Linked DNA regions of Homo sapiens. The protein of the gene in region 2 interacts with the protein of the main gene of each other region in a pairwise test. Each region holds a gene or a part of one and is shown on either strand. Other genes may lie near its edges.

Region 1 (3,747 bases), on a different chromosome or scaffold from region 2:
AGAGAGTAGGGAGGAAAGTCTCAGGTGGCACAAAGTAAAAGGACTGGAAAGCTTTTTATTTCATTATTAAATTCCTGCCTGGATTTATAAACTCAGCTTCTCATTTTTCTAAGTGGGTACCTTTGTGGCTAAGGAAAAGTGCTGGAGGCAGCTGCGGAGGGCTGGCGGGAGCCCACGGGGTGGGGTGTCTCTTGTCCTAATCAAACTAGTCTTCTGCACTTCTAACACTGTCGACAATGGGCGACTAGGAGATGTCCCAGGTGGGGTTAGACTTCTGCCTGTAGGCAGACTCTGCTTGTTGAAAAACCCCTCATTCTTGACAGGCTCTACAGCGGCTCACTGGGTCTGTCGCCTCGGTGAGTAGCAACCCCGTCGCCACCAGCCAAGGCACATCATGAGCATACACCCCCACCCCGGCCCCTCGGCCCCCGGCAAGTAGACCCCACTTCCCAGAGCCTCGAGGCCAACAGCGAGCGGCTAGAGCGGCAAGCCAGTGCCGCAGCTCCTCCCGGCGGGCGCCCCGGCCCCCGCAGTCCCCGGGGCAGAGTCCGGCCCCGTCGCCCGCCCCTCGGAGTGGGTGCCTCGGACCCGCTCCCCTCCCCGACGCCACCACCTGCGCCCGCTCCGGCGCCGCCTTTGTCCGGCGCTTCACCGCCAAGCGAGCCCCTCGGGCCCGACCTGACCCGGCCCCCAGCCCCAGAAGAGAGGCGGCGGAGCGAGCAGGGCAAGACCAGGCCGGGCCGCGAGCACAGGGTCCCGCTGTCACTTGGAGGCGGTCTGACAACTTCGATTCCCCCCGCCACACCTCGGACTCGGCCGCCGCCCCGCAAGGTCCCCGCAGGGCCTCCCGCGGCCCACACTCGCTTTTCGAACCGGTCCCCTTCCGTCTTCGGCGCCTCCCTTCCTCTCAGCCCGATCGAGTCGGGTCTACACTACTCCCCCCTGCCGCCCCCGGCCCGGCGCGGCCCTCATCCCCTGCCCCCCATCCAGCAATAACCGGTCAGCTCCCAGCGCGGGAGGGCGCCCCCCACCCTGAGCGGGCGATCCCGCGGCGCCGCCCCCGGCCGCGGCCCCTTGCCTCGGGGACCGCGATGGGGGAGGGGGCGCGGCGGGGGCCTCGCCGCCCGCGCACTCGGAGGCGAGCCGGCTCCGCCGCGGCGAGGAAAGACCGGCGTCCTCCCGCCCTCCGCAGCTCGGGACGCCCGCGCCGCCGCCGCCCGGCCGAGCTGCCACCCTGCGGCCGCCACCCACCCCGCCCCCGGCCTGCAAGGCGGGCGGCCCCCGGGGGCTGTCACCTCGAGGCGCGCCGCGTTCCCCGATGGCGGGACCGTGGTGCCGGACCCAGGGGAGGGAGGTGGCGCGAGCGGGCGGGCGGCCGCACCTGCTTCGCGTCGTCCGTCCGTCCGTCCCTTCCCGGGCTGGCGGGGGCGGTGGCGCGGCGCGCTCGGTGGGGCGCGCTGACGGGCGGCCGGTGCTCTCCCCCTTCGCTCTTCTGCCTACCTCGCTCGCTCCCTCCCTCCAGCTCGCCCCTTCCCCCTCCTCGACCCCGGCCCCTGACTCACCAGAACGGGCGGCGCGGACGGCGCGGCTCTGGGCGCCCGCAGGCCCCGGCCGGGCTGGAATCCGGCGGCTGGAACCCCCCGGGGGCGCTCAATTCCCGGGCTCCACGCTGCTGCGTCAGCGCCTCCTCCTGGGGGCCGGGGCCGGGCGGGCGGAGCGGGGACCGCGGCCGGGCGGGGCCGTCGGGGGGGGCGGGCGCGCCTGGCCGGGGCGGGCGGACGGCGGGGGCCGGACGGGCGGGGCAGGCAGCCGGACGGGCGGGCGGCGGGGGCCGGGCTCCGGGATCCGCTACGCCGCTCGCGGTTCCCCCACAAACTCCCCGAGAGCGGAGCCTCCGCCGCCCTCCTTCCTGCTTCCTCGTCCCCAGCCAATCAGCAGCGCGCCCCTCGGCCAGCTCCGCCAATCAGCCGCCCCGCCCTGCGCTGGCTCCGCCAGCCAATCCGGCCCTCGGCTCCCCCTCCCGGTCTCTGACCAATCAGAACCGTGGGTCGGTCGTCCCAACGCAGGGGGCAGCACGAGGCGGCCGGGGGAGGCGGTGCGGGGAGTGGTGGGGCCTTGGGGGAGGGGTGCCGTGCCAAGGGTGGTGGCAAGGGGTGATTTTCTTTGCCGGCTTCTTGGATTTTTCTCTTCGTCTTCAGAACCTGAGCCCGTATCCCACGGTGACTCGACCCCAATCTCCCAGCTGCTAGCCCCCCCGGAAAAATCTTATCTCCCCCCGCCCTGGCCATCACCCCTCCGCATCCCCTTTCCCCCAAATCCTCCCCAGCACGCGCTGGAGAAAACTGCGGGCCGAGGAACACCCCATCCTCGCCGGAGGCTGCTGCCCCCAGGGCAAAGCTTCAGGAAGACCAGCCGAAAATCAAGCGAGAACAACCCCCCTTTCCTGCAGAAAGGGCCCCAGACTCCTGCAAAAGGGCCCCGACTGCTGAGAAGCCCCTCCCGCCCTTGCCTCATCTTTCCGACTTCCCTGCCTGCCACGTCTCCTTTCCTTTCCAGCAAGGTCGGTCCTGGCTCGGTAACCCCTCACCCGCATCTCTTTTTCCTCTTTCTGCCCTTCACCTACCGCCCCCAACCCCAGCTCCTAATTCACCCTCTTCAGAAGCAGAGTGTGGAGCCCTCATCCATTTCCAGCTGACAGCAGAGCCTGGTCTGTGAGTCCTTGACACCCACACACCCTCTTCCACCACCGCGGGGAACATCAGAGCTCTCCGGGGGAGGGAGAAAGGGGCGGGCAGCCTGACAGGAGCGGCTGGACTCCCTCCCTCGCGTCCCCAAGCTACGGGAGAACCAAGTGTAGACACTTACCTGGCTTCCCCCTAGTCACCAAATGCTGTGGCTCCGTCTCTCACCCCCACAGACGTGCCCTCCCAAGCCCGAGCACGCTCGCGGGGTCAGTGGGGTGGGTGGGCACAGCAGGCTAAGGGCACAGAGAGAGATGGGAAGTCCCTGTTAGGTGCGGGAAGGAGCTGTGTCTTGGGCACCTGGTGGTGCCAGAGCCCGCCTAGGACTTCACTAAGCCCGGGATATGCACACAGTAGGTTCTCGAGAAATGCTGAGTTCACCCCTGAACAAAGCCTCATTCCCAATTCAGGCGGGGGAGGGGAGCTTTAGGAGGTAAAAGGAGCAGCGGCAGAAAGGGTAGTGTCAAGTCACCAGAGCGCTGGAGCAGCCCAGGGAGGGGCTGGGCCCCAGGAACGCCTTGGGCAGAGAGAGGCACCCAGAGTGCTGAGGCTGCCCAGGCAAGCAAGGAAAACCCAGCCTTGGAGTGTGGCCCAGGGGCTTCGGAGGGGCTCCTCCTGCACCACACACAGCGCCCAGCCTTTCCTAGACCTTGGGACTCCAGCGCTCACCCAGGCAGCCTTTTAAGACAATCAGGGCTGCTAGCCAATATGGCTGGGAAACAACCTCCCCCAGAAGCAGTTCCCCATCTGCCTCCAGAGCTGTCCAGGGGGCCCAGACTGTCTTAGCTGTTTGGGGGGACACACTTAAAGGAGGGGCCCCCTCAGCAGGGAAAGTGTGTGAATGGAAGCTAAAAGCTAAAACTGTGGCACGGAAATGTCTCGAAGGTCCAGGTTCTCCCACTGCCACTTCTCCCACCTCCCACCCTTGGGGAAAGCAAAACCCCAAAGCTGTAAAAGTAGGACGCTGAAAGATTTCTCCCCTTCCTGGACAGGACAGAGGTTCCCG
Region 2 (3,747 bases):
AAAGTTTCCAAGGCACTAGTTTTGTCCTCACACTTGCATTCCGGTAAGGCAGATGTTCATGTCTTCTCTTTTCAGGAAGGCAGCTGAGGATCCCAGCTATCTAAGCTTTTGGGCAACTGAGATTTAATTTGAAATCTCAGGTCTTCTGTCTCTGAAGAGGTTGTTCTTTCTTATTTTGGCTTCCTAAAATGTTGGAATGAAATACTTCTCACTTGCTAACTTCAGACCCTGCAGAAATCAATATAATTAGTATGATTGTTTCCAACTGACTTAAATGTGTAGGAAATAGTATATATCCTTTAGGAAGTTTATCCTGATTTTTACAGAAAGTTTCTGTCTGCACTTGCCTTCTTTGAAGAAGCAAACATTCACGGTAGATTTATCTTCCAGGATTTTGATGCTGAGGCCAAGAGGCAGTTTTGAATTAAAGCCCTCCTGTGACTAGTGTATTAGTTTAATAATCAATGCATTATGATAATGAAGCAGTTTATAGATGAGGTGTAGTCGTTCTTTAAAAATTCAGTGTTCGTAAAGATTGATCAACTTCCTAACTGAATTACTCTTTTTCTTTCTTGAGCTAGGATGACAATAAGAGATATACTCCTGTCTGGTATACATTGGCTTTTATATTTTTCCAGACTTGTGTTTCATCGTGGGCACTGATTGCTGATTTTATTTTCATTTTACCAGAATAACTGGTTCTCCTCCTCCACCTCCTAAATGAATTTGTTTCCCGAATATTTATTTATTTATTTTTTTGAGACGAAGTTGCCCAGGCTCTGTTGCCCAGGCTAGAGTGCAGTGACACAATCTAGGCTCACCGTAACCTCTGCCTTCTGGGTTTGCGCGATTCTCCCGCCTCAGCCTCCCGAGTAGCTGGGACTGCAGGTGTGCGCCACCATGCCTGGTTAATTTTTGTATTTTTAGTAGAGACGGGGTTTCACTGTGTTGGCCAGGCTGGTCTCGAACTCCTGACCTCGTGATCTGCCTGCCTCAGCCTCCCAAAGTGCTGGGATTACAGGTGTGAGCCACCGTGCCTGGCCTCTGAATTTGTTTCTCTAACAAAATTAGTGGTTAATGTTTATTTGATGTTAAAAGTCAGTCAAAGAAAATAGGCTTTGGGATCCCACTCCGGACCCCGCCTTGGTGCCTGTAGGGTGAATTGACATTGCAATTCTTGCCAAGGAGAGGTTAATTGCAGATGAAAGTGGTGTTGCATGTTTTATATTTGCTAGTAGGGGATGTGCTGACTCTTACTAAAAAACATCTTTAGAAATGTCTTATGCATTATAATTTAATCCAAGTCTCTGATATTGGTTTGGATGGTTTTCAATACAAGCCAAGTAACCATTAAATAAGATTACATAACACTGTATTTTTAATTATCTGATATAATGTATGGATTGGTGGCTGGCTCACTGCCAAGTTACATTTAGTTGTCGTTGATTACAAGAGAAAGTGGAGCTGAGGATTCAAGATTAAGGTGGTCCAGATTTGTGTCTAGGTTGATAAAAGTTTTTTGTTTGTATATCAAAATGGTTTTTATATCAGTTTCTCAAATATTACAATTCTTAGCATTACTTAGAATAAATATGGAGGATAAAAATATATTAAGGAAGGATTATTATTTTATGTACATCTCTTTGTAATCCACAAAACCCAGGGGCTTAAAACTTGATTTTTGGGGACCCCTTTTGGAAAACATTTCGGATTTGCTTGAATGTCACAGACTTGTAAAGTAGAGAGTAAGAATGAGAACTGCAGAACTGTATTTAGGTATGGTGCCTTCATGCTATAGTTTGTGATTTTCTGTTTCATCCAAAGGAGGATGTGATTATTTAGTTTTTAGTTTTTTATTGTTTTTCTTTGTGTTATCAGTTTTTTTTTTTTTTTAAGAAAATGCGATCACTCACAGTGTTAGATATGCCATTTCTGAGTTTTATACAGTGTATTATGATTAAAAGTGACCCAGTGATTGTGAGTTACAGGGTTTTGGTATTGGACATTAGTAACAGGCTTATAGAGAACCTGCCATGCTGGTTCTCTGTGTTGGGTCCCAGGGGTAGGGAGGAAAAACAGTCTGCACTGGTGAGAAGCTCCTGCTCTCCTCTGTGTGCGTTTGAGAATGAATTTTCGGTTTGTAGATGCCCTCTTTCCTAAGGAACATCTTAGTCCTTCAACTATGCTGAAATATTTAATGATTGGATGGCTTAGATTTACTGTTAATAAATCAGCTTGTGGACATTTTTGAGGCACTTGTTGGTACTGGGTCATGTTTGTAATCTCGATACTGGTAACAGCTCAGAGATGGAGAGGTTATTAGCCTAGTTTTTCAGTTGTAGAAACCAAGATTCTGACAGCTAAAGTGACTTGCCCATGGTGACATGCTTATAATAAAATGTCAGAGTGAAGGGTCAAGCTTTGTTCTTTTACAGGTCCATTGTTCTTTTTACCATGTCCTACTGACTCTCAGTAACACTGAGAGTCTAAAGGGCTAAGTTACTGGCCAACCTGTGATGGTATAATTAGTGAATGATAGAAGGAGAATCAAAACCCTGGCTTTTTTATGTGCAGTTTGTTTTTCCTCTAGCCTGTGCTGAATTGAAAGATAAATTATATAGCATCCATTTTCATACTTCATTCTTCACATTTCTGCCCTAAGATAAGTCCTCTGACCTTTTTCAAAATGGGTTGGATTGCCTGTTTTCTGGTGTCACATAACACCTGGTGCTCTTACGGTGTGATCCTCATCACACTGCTTTGTTTGGATCTTTGTCTTTCTTGGTAAAGAGTGAGTTCCTCGGAAGACAGGGCCTGGTCTTTCCTCTGTATCTTCAGCACCTAGCATACGTCTGAGCACAGGGCCCTTGGGAACTCCTGTCTTCATTTCAGTGTTACGTGTTAATTATCATTAAGGGTAGCAGAATCAGAAAGTATATTTGGAATTTAGCAGTCAGTAAAGAGCTTTGCTTCTTACAGCTTTAGAGGACCTGAATTGGAGGTGGGGATGAAGTCAACAGTTCTGCCCATATCAATGAAAGAAGGTTCTGAGTGAAATGCAGGGTTGAACAAGCAGAAAAGCATCCCAGTGCTCTTTAAATGTGGTTGCACAGTAGGGATCCTTCTCTAGGAGATAATGAGAAGATGTTGTCAGATCTGCTTTGAATCAGATGTTTATTTACTTTTATTCTTTCTTAAGGAATTTATGAAATCACTGCACTCTCATCAATTTGCTCTCCTTCTCTAAACTCCTAATGATATTTCTCATGACAGATTAAAAACAGAATTTTGGAAGCCCTAGTCACATGCCAAATAAGGTTTCTTACCTGAGAGAGTTATCCGCAGTTTCAGATGCCAAAGGGAAACTCCGAAAGCCAGAGGAGCGATTGAAACCGCAAATTGAGTGCCAACAGCAACTTTGATATCAAAAGCCCCATTTGCCTGTTGTCACCAGTCCCGCTGAGTGAAGATAGAATGACTTATATCTTCTACCAAAACAATAGAAGGAGAGTGTTCCTTGGCGTTGGGGATGATGATTATAAAAGCCACCAATTTGAGGCTCTTCCGTGCCAGCTGCTTTCTGTGCATTCTCTCCCATCCCCGCAAGATCTTGCAAGGTAGGAGGTTTTATTCCCTGCGTGCCTCCTTTATTTTTTTCAAATGAGGCCTCTAAGGCTCAAAAACACTAAGTAACTTGCCCAGTCAAGGTACACAGCTTATAAGTAGTCAGGCTGAAATTTTAAACCA

The links. Proteins that work in one complex are often made in the same cells at the same time.
Region 1: the proteins of KHDRBS3 (region 2) and BAHD1 interact in binary tests that used the Homo sapiens proteins (3 or more experiments, as listed by UniProt).

Annotation. Positions count from the first base shown.
Region 1 is NC_000015.10:40,439,084-40,442,830, reverse strand, and holds the start of BAHD1 (bromo adjacent homology domain-containing 1 protein), read right to left. Parts: upstream 1,879-3,747; 5' UTR 1,563-1,878; intron 1,422-1,562; exon of another isoform or gene 1,296-1,421; intron 392-1,295; exon of another isoform or gene 1-391.
Region 2 is NC_000008.11:135,460,360-135,464,106, forward strand, and holds part of KHDRBS3 (KH domain-containing, RNA-binding, signal transduction-associated protein 3), read left to right. Parts: intron 1-3,273; exon of another isoform or gene 3,274-3,529; coding exon of another isoform or gene 3,530-3,617; intron 3,618-3,747. UniProt on the Homo sapiens protein: RNA-binding protein that plays a role in the regulation of alternative splicing and influences mRNA splice site selection and exon inclusion. Binds preferentially to the 5'-[AU]UAAA-3' motif in vitro.